Linked DNA regions of Homo sapiens: region 1 is linked to region 2. A link means that fine-mapping ties the variant in region 2 to the expression of a gene that starts in the linked region. Tissue or cell type: lung. Region 2 holds a variant in brackets; the other region holds the start of a gene. All regions are shown on one strand. Distances are from middle to middle.

Evidence for each region. PIP is the estimated chance that this variant, and not a neighbour inherited with it, causes the effect.
Region 1: UTS2 starts here. The variant in region 2 is fine-mapped to the expression of UTS2 in lung (TOPMed, PIP 0.92).

Annotation. Positions count from the first base shown.
Region 1 is chr1:7,851,730-7,854,338 of GRCh38, reverse strand. UTS2 (urotensin 2) reads left to right here and starts at 1,274. Exons shown (of 4, transcript NM_006786.4): 1 at 1,274-1,438. The coding sequence starts at 1,336. RefSeq lists an enhancer at 1,066-1,754.
Region 2 is chr1:7,948,171-7,950,930 of GRCh38, reverse strand. No RefSeq gene overlaps it. Among named protein-coding and RNA genes, the nearest start is that of TNFRSF9, 8.7 kb to the right of the region's middle. The variant G/A (reference allele first, on the strand shown) is at 1,228.

The DNA of each region.
Region 1 (2,609 bases), 97 kb after region 2:
AGAGTCTCGCTCTGTCACCCAGGCTGGACTGCTGTGGCGCAATCTTGGCTCACTGCACCCTCCGCCTCCTGGATTCAAGCAATTCTCCTGCCTCAGCCTCCTGAGTAGCTGGGATTACAGGCACGTGCCACCATGCCTGGCTAATTTTTGTATTTTTAGTAGAGACGGGGTTTCACCATGTTGGTCAGGCTGGTCTCAAACTCCTGACCTCGTGATCCATCCGCCTCAGCCTCCCAAAGTGCTGGGATTACAGGCGTGAGCCACTGCACCCGGCCGAGACAGTGTTTCTCTATGTTGCCCAGGCTGGTCTTGAAATCCTAAACTCAAGTGATCCTCCTGCCTCGGCCTCTCAAAGTGCTGAAATTACAGGCATGAGCCACCGTGCCTGGCCTATCTTTGTAACTTTTGTGTTTAGGTCCACAGAAAGTTTTGAGCAAAGAACTACCATGATCTGACTTATGCAGATGCTTCTGGCATCACTCTGCTGTGCTGAGCCTGTGGCAGGCCCGAAGGCAGACTTCAGGACGCCTGTCGGGGACCTTTCCACCCATCCGGGCTTGGACCAGCTTGGGCAGAGTACAGTTGGGAGTAGAGGCCACATTCTGGAAATGTTTATCAGCGAGTTTTCTGGTGTTAAGTCCTTCCTCCCTCCTTGCTGAATAATAATCAACTTTATGAAGTTATTTCCTTTCTCTGAAGATTGAAGTGCTTGCGGCTTCACATGAGGCCACGTGTATGTACAGAATTGTCTTGAGCCTGGAGCAATGTTTGCTATGTATTTTAACTTTTCACTGTTTTAAAGGAAATAGCTGGTTTTACGTTTTAATCCACAGATTGTCATTCTTCAGGGATGGCAGCCCTAAACACAGCATGGCAACTCATCTACTCACTCATGAAAGATTAAAAAATGGAAACCAACGTATTTCATCTTATGCTCTGCGTCACTTCTGCTCGGACTCATAAATCCACGTCTCTTTGCTTTGGCCACTTCAACTCATATCCAAGCCTTCCTTTAATTCATGATTTATTGCTGTAAGTTGCCTCTTTTGCCAGATTTATAAACTCACTGTTCTTTATATAATACCTACTTTGTACACTAGGCAACAAGACAGTTAATTTATTGTCTATGACTTGTTACCTTGAAAAATTACATCAATGCAAAGTGATTGCCTTTTAGCCTCCATAGCCAATAAATTCATTTTTTTTTTTTTTTTGGAGAGGATGATGTCAGGTCATAGGATGATATATATAATCAGTGAGCAGGCAGAATGAGGAGACAGTTGAAAGTTCTCTACAACAGAAGCCAAGAAGGAAGCCGTCTATCTTGTGGCGATCATGTATAAGCTGGCCTCCTGCTGTTTGCTTTTCATAGGATTCTTAAATCCTCTCTTATCTCTTCCTCTCCTTGACTCCAGGGAAATATCCTTTCAACTCTCAGGTAAGATTTTTTTTTTCCCCTTATGTTAGTCTTGAAAGAGCCTTTACTAGTCTTAAATTCAATGTTAGAGATAAGAATGGGATTCCTGCTCGAAGGAGTCTGGAGTCTTGTTCTCTCAATAGTCCCAGCTTTGAAAAGAATATTAAAGGATCCTTACTGCACATTTTAGATGTAGTAATGGATACAGTTTTTTTTCTGTCTCTACAATGTAAAAGGAGAAGAGGATAATTGCTTGTTTCATGTTACCTCTGTACTCTTGTTTTGGGTAATATATACATTTTTCCAATTTTAAAAATTGCATGAAATTTAAAACATCATTACTTTTAGTTTTTACTTTAAATGAACTGGTTGAATGTAGCACTGGTTGTTCTAATTATAGATTATTAATGGATTTATTTGTTTCACCTTTTGTTTAAAAAAATCATCTGATATGTGTTCTACGAAACAAAAATGTTTACTAAAAATTTTTTAGTAAATGACAAACTAGGGAACTAGGGAGTTCATAGACTTCCAAGTATATTGATCGTTTCCTTTTGATTTATGTTAATTCAGTTTAAGTCTAAGTTGAGTTAAAGAAATACACATCAGTCAAGTAGTTTCTCATTTTGCCATTATCTTTCCATTTAGTTAGAGAAATGAGAAAGCTAATGCTTGGGGATTAGGTTCCATCAAAAACTTAACTAGATTTAATCTTATCTTTAATCTTGAGTACTTTTTAAATAGGCTTTTTTTAAATAAAGAAAAAAAACAAACAAACCCTCTTTTAAGCCAAGGATTTTATAGTTTCTCGTCTCTAAAAGTTCATCCCAAGCAGCTTTCTGATGATCGTCAAGCACTGTCATCAGGCACTGCCAACCAACTTCCCGAGTCACCGAGATGATCATTGGCTGTCCTACTAATAGTTAAACACTGGCATTAACTTTACTGAATCTCTGCTATTTACAAAGAAACAGCACACATCTCAAGATGAAATAAGTGAAAATACTCAGCTACTACTGTCATCTTAAAAAATTTTACAAGTAATTTAAGAAACATAGATGAAATGAGTGTAGCATCTCACACAAATTCGAAACAAGTGGCAGCTTATCGCAGAATTTGTTCTCATTTATTTCTCCAGAAATGTGCTTTCCTATCAGCATTTACAGATGATGAAATTTTATAGATTTTCATT
Region 2 (2,760 bases):
CCCTCCTATTATAGAATCTGTACGGCTGTGTGGCCTTAGTTATTTGTGTAACCTCTTCCTTCCACTCAAGGCTGGGAAAACTGTTGGGATGGCACTTTATCTATATATGCCATACAAGACAATAAAACTCACTCCACAATTATTTATGGAGGGCTTGTTGTGTGTTCTCAGGAGTGCTCTGGGGTGCCAGGGATGCAGCAGTGAACAGTGTCCCCTCTCATGGAGCTTATGTTCCATGGGGAAACGACAGACAGTAAACAAAAGCACAAATAAATAGCATGCCAGGTGGTGGTATGTACTATGAAGGAAAACAAAGGAGGGAGAGAAGATGGAGAATAATGGTGGGGGGAGGGTGCTCGTTTAGACACTGGTCAAAGAATGCTGTTTTCTGAGGAGAAAACCCAAATAAGATGAGGGAGTGGCCGGGTGCAGTGGCTCCCACCTGTAATCCCAGCACTTTGAGAGGCCGAGGTGTGCGGATCACCTGAGGTCAGGAGTTCCAGACCAGCCTGGCCAACAAGGTGAAACCCCATCTCTACTAAAAATACAAAAATTAGCCGGGCATGATGGCAGGTGCCTGTAATCCCAGCTACTCGGGAGGCTGAGGTGGGAGAATCGCTTGAACCCAGGAGGCGGAGGTTGCAATGAGCCGAGATGGTGCCACTGCACTCCAGCCTGGGCGACAGAGCAAGACTCCATCTCAAAAATAAATAAAAATTTAAAAATTGAAAACAAGTCAGGCTAGAGGGGAGTGGTAGGATGCAAAACAGGAGAAGTAAATGGGTTAGAAAATGTGCAGATTTGCATTAGACATTCGATAAATGCTTGTTGAGTTAAATTTACTGAATTGATAAGGGACAGAGAGTAATCTAATGATAATAATAATGAAACTTGGAAATTGCTTGAGGTTGAGTGCAACAGACCCTATAGGCATATATATGGAGTAGTTATAACTTACACACAGGGACAGTTGGAACTCTTATTTTGTGTGGTGATACTTATTTAGTATGGTGATACTTAACTGAAGAAAAAAAATCTTATGAAAACTAATGGTTTATCCAACAATCTTCCATTATAATGGAAACACAGAAGAACAGGAGACGGATTTTGTGGAGAACGACTTGTGAGTGGAATTATTTGGTAGAAAATGCTGATCACCATTAAAAAGCTCAGAAGGAAACAAAATCCATCTCCTGGTGTTGCCTTGCTTTTGATTTGTTGAATAAG[G/A]ACACTAGAATGTTAATTGACAGTAGTTGAGATGAATTTGTATATTACTTAATTTTAATAGTACTTTCCTTCCCAAGGGTTAAGGTGAACGCTAGGGACGGGGAGCTAGTACCCCACAGCCAGAAGCTGGCCTTCGGTACAAAGTTATGTTACTTCAGGATAATGTTGCCTCTTGGGGTGATACTGCTTTGATCACAGTTGTCACCTGCACCCCAAAGACTAGTTTTCCCTTTAACGGCATGTAGCAACTATCTCTCGCCATCCGAATTTAAAAATAAAGAGCCCGTGTTTACTTAATGGTTTTTGATTACGTGCTCTTATTTTAAGCTAGTCTAACTTCCTCCAAAAATTGACTACTATGAGGCTGTCAATTCTGCTCTTCATCACATTTCTCAAAGTTTAAATTGATCGTCAGTTTCTTGGTAGTCATTCATGTAGACGAGCTCTGATGTGGTTTCCAACTCAGCTCTTAAACCACGGAATTGACAGTCTTACCCTTGGTTGCTGAGTCAACACATCTTTTTACTAATTCACAGGAATGTGCCATTACAGCTAGCTCCTATGTTAGTCATACCTCTTGGCCAGATGTTAAGGTAGCTTTGGAATGAGACAGCGTCCAATTCCATCCCTGGTGTCTCCATTCCTTAAATGTGGCAGTATGGTGTGGTGGGAGAGCCTGTTCTCGCTCTCTGAGTCCAGCCTGTCTGGATTTAAGCCCAGCTCTGTCCCATGCTAGCTAAGTGATCTTGAACAAATGAGTTACCCCTCATGCCTCATGTTCCCCATCTATAAAACAGGGATCACAGAACCTGTGTACTTCACAGGGTCACTATGAGAATTAAATGAATGAATATAGGTAAAGCTAGAACACTGGCCTGGAGTAAACCCTCAAATGCTGCCCTTAATCCTTGTCTCAGGAATTGAACTCCCTTGGCTTCTGTTTCTTCACATTAGAATAGTAACAATAATTCTTACCTCATGGAGTTCCTGCATTGCAGATGTTATGCTCAACACTTTTTTTGTGTGCATCTGTGAGACAGAGTCTCACTCTGTTGCCCAGGCTAAGGGGCAGTGGTGTGATCTCGGCTCACTGTAACCTCCACTTCCCAGGTTCAAGTGATTCTCCCACCTCAGCCTCCCAAGCAGCTGGGACTACAGGCACACGCCACCATGCCCAGCTAATTTTGGTATTTTTAGTAGAGACGGGATTTCACCATGTTGGCCAGGCTGGTCTCAAATGCCTGACCTCAGGTGATCCGCCCACCTCGGCCTCCTAAAGTGCTGGGATTACAGGGATGAGCCACCGCACCCGGCCTATGCTCAACACTTTAAATATTTTATTTAGCCTCTTCAGAAGGAACAAAATCTGTCTTCTGAGACTAAATAAAACATTTAAAGTGTTTAGCATAACATCTGCAATGCAGGAAGCCACCCATAAGTATTAGCTCTTGTTATTAGAAAACATTTATTTAGTGGTAGTCGCAATCTGTTTAAATTCAGCGTTGAAGGGACCAGAGGAATGGACCACAGAAT